2 separate regions of the Homo sapiens genome follow, and region 2 is linked to region 1. The links come from fine-mapping of genetic effects on gene expression. A gene starts in region 1. The other region holds a variant in brackets. All regions are shown on one strand. Distances are from middle to middle.

Region 1 (4,000 bases):
GGAGGACTGCTTGGACTCAGCAGTTTGAGACCAGCCTGGTCAACACAGGGAGATCCCATCTCTACAAAAAATTTACAAATTAGCCCGGCATGGTGGCATGTGCCTGTATTCCCAGCTACTTGGGAGGCTGAGATGGGAGGATCCCTTGGCCCTGGGACATAGAGACTGTAGTGTGCTGTGATCATGCCACTGCACTACGGCCTGGGTGACAGAGTGAGGCCCTTTCTCAAAAAATTTAAGACAGGCCAGCAAGTGAGAGATTAGTATTACTCCCTTTTGCAAAAGAGGAAACTCAGGCTCAGAGAGGAGTCATAGGACAGGTGAGGTAAGACTGGAATCTAAACCCAAGGCTATGGGGTTCAAGGACTAGGCCCCTTCCTCTGCTCCTCAAGCCTCACTAAGTCACCTGTGTGGTAGCTGAAACGCTGTATGTCTCAGGAATGCAGTTTCCTCAGCTGTAAAGTAAGGGAATTGGGCCAGAGCAGGGGCAGAGCCCTGGGCAGGCCACCAACCAGATTTGCCCGCTGAAGGCTAAGGTCGAGCCTGGGTCCTCAACTTGGCGTCAAAGAAACTTGTTTCTCCTGGGCTAAATGGCAGTGACAGTATAAGGTTTGAAGTTTTGGAAGAGGGGAGAGAAAGAGAGGGTTGGCTGGAGTTCCAGTGCCCAAAGGGTCTTCCCCACACTGGAACCTGAAGGCCTAGGCCCTATAACTCGGGCTATGAGGATACTTAGGTCCCTGGAAGGTGCGTGGCCCAGCTTAGACAATAGGCGCAGGAGGCTAGACAAGGGGCCTTTGTGTCTCCCAAGCAAAGGCCCCAGCAGGACTGCAGAGGCGGCTCAGCCACTATGGGCTGTGTGTCCACTCTGCTACTGCTCCTGGTGGGGCTGCAGCCAGCACCCTTCCTGGCAGCCAGGCCCAGTCAGCTGATATGGAGCCCAAGAGGGCCCAAGGCCCCGAAGGCCCGGGGCAAGTTCCTTGGCTACAGGAAGAGGCCTCCTCTGCACTTGTCCAGCCAGCGGAGCGATTGGCTCCATTTCACAGGAAAGAAGACCCTGCCAGGGAATGGAACTGGGTCAAGGTCTCCCAGAGTCAGTGCTGAAGCCAGACAGGAACCTACACTCCTGATTCCTAGACCAGAAATGAGAGAGAGGCGGGGTGCTCATTCATTCATCCATTCACACCTTCAAGGATTGAGCACCTCCCAGGACCTCTAGGACAGCAGCAGGAAGAAGGCAGACCTGGTTCCTGCCCTCGGGAGCTCACAGTCTCCGAACGGGTCAGACATGCAGCCGGTAGCCCGACCAGGGAAGGCCATTAGAGTGGGGTTGACGACAGAGAAGAGAGGTAAAGCAGCTCAAGATAAGGGGCCAGAGTGGGGAGTTCAGGGAGCTGCTGATAAGATTAAGGCAGGGAAAGTGGGGAGCACGGGAGAGGCGGGATCCTGAGTACCCTGCTTTCCTAACCACGGTAATGGAGAGAGGCACCCCCTTCCCCCACTTTCAAGCAAGGGAGGTACGTCCTTAGCCTGGGGTTCCGAGCAGGTATCTCCCAGTAGGTCCCTTCCTGGCCAGCCGGGCTGGGGCAGGGGCGGGACAGGGGTAGGGTGGCGCGGTGGCTGGGCGCAAAGGTCCCGCAGTGGGCCACGCAGGCACCGGGCTGACCTGGCAAAACTTTGGCGTCTCTGAAAACCTCTGGTAACCAGCTCCCTTCTAGCGTGAGGGAGCCGGGAGGCCTCCTTCTGGCCCGGCAGTGAGAGCGTCGCCGCCCGACCCTCCCGTTGCAGCACCGGTACAGACACGCTGACCCCGCGGCCTTGTCGCTGGGCGGCGTCCCGGAGCGGGTGGCGCGGTGTCTACCCGGGCGGGTTGAGGGCGGTGCCAGGGTCAGTCAAAAGTCCGCCCCGCCCCCTGCCTGGCCCGGCTTCGGGGTTGGGGAACAGCGCAGGGAGGTGGGTAGCCGGGCTCCCAGGCACGTGGGTCTCTGCGGCTGCGGCGGGACCCGGGCACTGGCACCCGGGAGCGGCGGCGACGGCACCCTGAGAGGAGAAGCGCAGCGCAGTGGCGAGAGGTGGGGTGGGGCGTCTGGAGGGAACAAGGCGCTGGGAGAGGCCCGGGGAAGCGGCGGGCCAGACTGGCGCAGGTGCGGACTGGGCGCGGGGCAGGGGAGGGCGCTGTGGAGCGGCTGTCGCCCCGGGGCACAGTTGCGAGCCGGCGTGTAGCGCATAACTGGACGGCTTGAACGCGCCTGTGGGTCCGTGGTTGAACTTTGTCTCCACGGGAGCGTCGGTCTCGGTGAGTGTGGACGGGCGCCCCAGTAGTGAGGCTGTGCGCGTCAGCGTACTGGGGAGGTCTGCGTGTTAGCGGGTGAGTGTGTGCGCCCCTCGGGGCGACTGGCCAAGCCTGCGGAACTTGTCTGTGTGTGCTCCGATGTGAGCGTCCCCGTGGCGTGAGGCGGTGGCCGGTGCCCAGAGACGCGAACCCCTGGAGACCCCCTACCACTGTCCTAACCCCAGGGTCACTCTGGGTGGCCACCTACCATTGGTAATGTTGAGGGGGCAGTTGCAGGGAGTGGGCGGGGGAGGAGGGAGTGGCCAGAAAGGACAGTTAAGCCTCTGTCCCCGGGCTTTTAATCTGGCAAATGGTGCGGTAGAAAGGGTCAGTCAGGAGAAAGGCGATACCCCACCCCCCAACCCGAAGGCTGCCAGTGGCCCTCTTGGGGTCCTCCAGGAGCGCAGCCCAAGGGTTGGGGACTGCTGGAGACCAGAATTGCCAGCTCGGGATTTGTGGGGTCCATGGCTGCTGTTCCTCTCAGCATGGCATCCCCAGCTTCCCAGGACCACAGCCTGATCTGCCTGGTTTGTTTTGGATCTAAGCTGAAATAATTATGAGTTTTGAGGATCTGGGTGGAGACCCAGGCAAGTTTATTACCTGTGGGTGGAAGTGGAAGGAAGAAGATTCTCTGAGCAGACAGGTCCACAAGAGAGCTCTGGAGACTCAGAGATCTATGTTCCAATCCTGTCTTGGCCACTGTGTGGCCTGGGCAAGCCGTCCTTTCTCTGAGCCTCAGTGGCCTCGTCTGTAAGAAGGGACTAATGATAAGGAATTTGAGGGCTGTTGAGGAGCTGATGAGTGTGTCATGTTCAGCACCAGTGTCCCCCCATGGGCAGGCTCACAGCTTGGGGATGGGAAGTCAGTCCCTGGAAGGAGCCTCCCAGAACCAGAATCCCAACTGTGCCCCTCCCTAGGGCACAAGCCTTCCACAGGACCAAGCCTGAACCCTGTAGCCTGGGACTTAAGGTATTTGATAACTGGGGCCTGCCAGCCTTTCCAGCCACCTCTCCCGCCTGACTCTTTACCTTGCAGCAGCTGCCTGGAGTCTCTCATTTCTTGCCCCTGGCCTGTTGCATATTCTACACTCCCTCTCTGATAAGCCCTCCTACTCTCACCTTCCTCAACTGGAGAACTACCCAGACTTGGGACCCAGCTCAGATGTCCTCTCCTCTGGAAAGCCTTCCTTGATCCCTACAGCTGGGTTGGAGCCTCTTCTAGGCCCCTACAGGCCTGGGGCTGACAGCCCTGGTCCCACCTGAACCGTCATGATCTATGTCTGTCTCCTCCTTTCCTCTTCCCAGGTCTAGGGGCTCCTGGAGGGCAGAAACTGGGTCTTATTATTTCTGTGTTGCCAGCACCCTGCACAGGGCTGAGCTGAACTGAGAGAGCAGCAGTGGCGCCCATCCCCTGTCTCTGGCACCAGCTTCTCCAGTAAAGGCCCGGCTGCAGGGGAGCTCCATGTCACTACAAAGAAGGGCAAACCAGAATCTGGTTATCAAAGTGGGTGGCACAGTTTGCCAGAACAGTGTGATCTGGGACACTGTAGGACCTAGAGTGCCCAGGCTAAAGACCTAGAGATTTTATCCTGAAGGCAATAGGGAGCCATGGAAATTTATGAGCAGAGGTGTTTCATGGTCAGAGCGGCATTTCAGAAAGCGCTCTCTGGCT
Region 2 (4,517 bases), 22 kb before region 1:
TGGCTAAGCCAGGATTTTAACTCAGATTTGTCTAATGCTGAGGCTCAAGCTCCTTCTGTTGCACTGAGCTGCCTCTATTTTTTAAAGTAACCTCTGAGATGTTACTTATTTTTGGAACTCAGAAACTCACTCCAGCTTTATCCCACTTTGATCTTTATGACTTAGGTTGCAGATGCCATCAAAGCTGTTGCTTCTCTGTGAACTGCAGCAGACTTTGCCCGGAGCAGTAAACTGTGGACGGAGGAAGGGAAGCAGGAAGGCAGGTTTGAGACTGGTTCCCCATGGGTTCACTGGCACTATCCTGGGTCGTCCCACCCTTCCTTCAGCCTGCCGCCCTGTCCTGAGTCATGCAGTTCCCTAGCACTCCTGGGACAGCTGAGCCCTGTGCATGCATGCACGCAGCATTCCCCTGCAGCCTGCGCTCACACCACCCCCCACGCACCACCCTCCACCTGGTCCTGGACATACTTCGCTACCTCAAGGTATCCAATGGCCAAAATCCAAGGCTACCACTGGGGAAGATTCTTCACGGGTTTGCAGTGTGCCATGTCTCCCCTGCTAGACTGTGAATGCCTCTAGGGCAGGGACCTTTCACCCTCTCATTTGTGTGCCCAATAAGCACCTACTATGTGCCAGGCACAGTGCTGGATGCCAGGGTATAATTGGAGCTGATGTGCAGTCAGTACACAATGGCACAGCTGTAGCAGCCCTGAGACCTCCAAGTGCTCCAGCACCCTGGCTGCCCCTTGGTGTACTGCCTGGGCCTCCTCACAGTCCTTCAATGAAAGGGCTAATGTTTGGCACACTGGAGGGCTCCAGGAGCTCATGTCACATTGGCTCATGTCTTAGACCTCCTGGACCTCCCTGGCCTCTGTAGGTATGTGCCTGATTCCGGGCAGGTTTGCACTGGGATAGACATGGGGCGGTTTCAGTGATGAGTCACCTGATGACAGCCCTGTAAAATATAAAGGAGTGCTGGGTACAGGCATGCACAAGACCTTGAGTGCTCCTCTGTGACAGTCTCCTCACCAGTAACTGTCTGAGTCAAGTCTGGCCATAGGCAAATCCATTGTCATCCTTTCCTCTCCCCCTGCTGGCTTCAAGATCCAGCCAGTTCTCTCTTTCTTTGCTGGCTTCTGTATCACTAATGGACTTGTGGCTTTGGGAGCAGGTGCCATTTCCCTGCAGGCTGTGGACTTCTTATCAGCTCCATCCAAGAGTTTTGACAGGAGCCTGAAGCCCTGTTTAAAGTCCCTGTCTTCTAGTGGAGTTTCACTGATTTTCTGGTTATGCCAGCTTCTGGTTCCAAGGTCATTGCCAGCCCTTAGTTCATGGGCAGAGCTGAGACCTTTGGCATGCTTGGTGCCCAGCTCAGGTTCCCAGGTCTGTCCCCCTACCCCAGGGGCTCCCACACACCCTGGGATGGTCTTCTAGGGCCTGTCCATGTGCAGTGTTCACAGTGGCAAAAACACAGCAACAACAGCACATGCAAACGCTCCCAGCAAAAGGTAGGAGGGTTTTACACTCCTGGACCAGGGCTGGAACAGCGTTGTTTATTAAGAACACGGACTTTAGATAATTCTATTGAGATTATACATGGAAAGCCCTTGTTTCAGTATCTGACACATACTAGGTGTTCAATAAATTACAACTATCATTAAAGGCACTTTGAGGAGAGCAGAATTTGCTATGATGGTTGATGATGTGGTAAAGGTAGTGATTCTTGATAGTGATTATGGAGTCTCACCACTGACAATGGCAACGATAGTTTTCCTTACCCAGGGAATGATATATCTCTCTGGGGATATTTACAGTAGGTTTGTAGGTCACATTTGATAAAGAGAGTCAAGAAGAGAAGGAAATATGTCCTATGGGTAATTTCTAGTTTGATTATGGAGACAAGATTCAGAGACACAAAAGAATTATAAGAGTTCTCCCACTTGACCTGGGAGCCAAGGGCTCGGGAAAGGGAGGCTCAAGGTTCCTAGCACAAGGTAATCATTCAAATATGATTCCCCAAAATGGCATTGACAGCCTTCGTCCTCTTTCCACTGTTGGTCACTGTTAGAACAGAAGGGAGGCTGGTGAGCCAGTGAACCCCTGCTTCTTTCTCCTGCTTACTTTCTCCCCGCAACTTGCCAGAGGTTCACAAACCTTCAGGTAAATGACATGACAGGGAATGTCACTGACAGAGGGTTAGGGGTGAAAATGTCAGGATGGGCAAGTATCAGACCCTCCTGGCCTTCCCCCAGCTGCTCCAGAGGAGTTTTGAGCTGAATTGCACCCCTAGCCACAGCGGAGCCCACTACTGTGCTCACAGAACCACTGTCGGAGAGTTTCGAGGACTCAGAGAGAACACAAACACCAGGAGACTGGAAATTCAACTTTCTTTCTTTTTTTTTTTTTTTTGAGGCAGAGTCTCACTCTGTTGCCCAGGCTGCAATGCAGTGGCACAATCTCGGCTCACTGCAACCTCCACCTCCCGGGTTCAAGCAATTCTCCTGCCTCAGCCTCCCAAGTAGCTGGGATTACAGGTGTGCACCACCACGCCCAGCTAATTTTTGTATTTTTAGTAGAGACAGGGTTTCACGATGTTGGCCAGGCTGGTCTCGAACTCCTGATCTCAAGTGATCTGCCTACCTCGGCCTCCCAAAGTGTTGGGATTGCAG[G/C]CGTGAGACACTGCACTGGCCTGGAGATTCAACTTTCAAAAGGTAAACGATGGAAACCACAGAGGAGAGACTTTTAGACCCTCTGCCAGTGACATTCCGGATTACCAATACCTTCAATAGTCCAGAACCTTATTACCTGTATTTTACAGTTGTGGAAACTGAGGGTCATAGGGTTTAAATAAACGAATAAGTGATAGAATCAGGATTTGAATGTAGGGTTGTCTATTCCAAATCATTCCTCTTAACCACTATCCTGCCAGTCGAAGCCATGGTGATGCCCTTCTGAGCAAATTGATGGTGTCTGTGATGCCCTTATGTACCAACCTTCTCTACTCAGCAGAGGAGGAAATGGCCCCTGGCTAGTGGGCGGGAGCATCAGTGGATATTATGCTGGATTAAGATGTCATTCTACTGTTGACTTAGAACATAACCATGGGGCCATGAGGCCGCACCCCTGTGGGAAGGCAGTGAAATGGCTCATCTAAAGTTCTTCCTGGTGTAAGTGCCCTGGGGAAGATGTGTGATCCAGGGCCTGGGAAGCAGAACTGCTGTAGGATCTTATGGCTACAGAAGAGAGACCCGGACTCTTTTTTTTTTTTTGAGACAGAGTCTCACTCTGTCACCCAGGCTGGAGTGCAGTGGCAATTCTTGGCTCAATGCAACCTCTGCCTCCCAAGTTCCAGTGATTCTCCTGCCTCAGCCTCCTGGGTAGCTGGGATTATAGGCACACACCACCACATGCGGCTAATTTTTGTATTTTTAGTAGAGATGCGGTTTCATCATGTTGGCCAGGCTGGTGTCGAACTCCTGAATTCAGGTGATCCACTATCTCGGCCTCCCAAAGTGCTGGGATTACAGGCACGAGCCACCGTGCCCGGCCAGACCCTGACTCTCATAGTCTGCACTTTTGAAGATATTGAAGATATTGGTGTCTATAAGGATGTCCCCAAGTCAGGGGCCTATCAAAAAGAGGCAGGTCAGGAACTAGAAGGGGAGGGTGGAGATCAGGCAAGGCCCTATGTTTCACTCTGGAGTCAGTTAGCACCTGGAGAACAAATGATACCTTACACAACAAACTGTTTAGTAGGTCACACTCCACCCCATTCATGTCCCCATTGTCACCTCTATCTGAACAGCCTGTTACAGCCATTTTAAGGAAGCAATTTTTAAGGATAATAATTTAAAATAAAATTTTAGAACAAGTAGACAAACTTCTTAAAAGAATAGTTTTTGATGCACAGAAAAGTTGCAAAGATGGTACAGAGGATTCTCGTATATCCTCACCCACTTTCCTCTACTGCTAACGTCTTATATTGGCCACGGCAAATGAACCAGTATTAGTAAATTATTATTAACTAAAATCCATACTTTATTTACATTTCCTTCGTTTTTACCTAATGTCCTTTTTCTGTCCCAGGATTCCATCCAAGGTGCCACGTTACACTTAAACATCATGCCTCCATCCTTTCTTCCTGGTCTGAGAGAGTTGCTCAGACTCTCCTGGTTTTTGATGATCTTGAGAGTTTTGAGTATTCATCATCAGGTATTGTGCAGACTGTTAATTTGGGCTTTGCTGTTGGTTTTCTCATGATTAGACTTGGTTGAGTTCTTGCGAGGAAGGTCACAGAGGTGAAGTGCCACTCTCATTGCATTATATCAAGGGAACATTCCATCAGCATGACTCATCACCATTGATAACAGGCTTGATCACATGACAGAGGGAGTGATTGTCAGACTTCTCCATGGCGAAGTTACTCAAAGGATGCATTCCAATCACTGAGATGGAAGGGGCAGTACCCCCTGGCAGTCTGTATGGTGGGAACCCATGAGAGAACCCACCCGATAGGT

Direction of the effects. Positions count from the first base shown, and alleles are read on the strand shown. Sizes are in standard deviations (SD) of each study's normalised expression.
With allele G in place of C in region 2, the expression in esophagus mucosa of the gene that starts at base 1,918 in region 1 is lower (small effect, 0.18 SD a copy in GTEx).

Evidence for each region. PIP is the estimated chance that this variant, and not a neighbour inherited with it, causes the effect. A credible set is the group of variants that fine-mapping cannot tell apart.
Region 2: its variant is the best candidate, but not a certain one, in a credible set for the expression of P2RY2 in esophagus mucosa (GTEx, PIP 0.50).

What each region holds. Positions count from the first base shown.
Region 1 is chr11:73,216,364-73,220,363 of GRCh38, forward strand. It overlaps P2RY2 (purinergic receptor P2Y2), which reads left to right and starts at 1,918. Exons shown (of 3, transcript NM_002564.4): 1 at 1,918-2,069. LOC124902709 (a long non-coding RNA gene) reads right to left here and starts at 1,830. Exons shown (of 3, transcript XR_007062773.1): 1 at 1,664-1,830. RefSeq lists enhancers at 1,752-2,470, 2,471-3,189 and a silencer at 1,829-2,038.
Region 2 is chr11:73,194,472-73,198,988 of GRCh38, forward strand. No RefSeq gene overlaps it. Among named protein-coding and RNA genes, the nearest start is that of IUR1, 14 kb to the left of the region's middle. RefSeq lists an enhancer at 4,193-4,487. The variant G/C (reference allele first, on the strand shown) is at 2,670.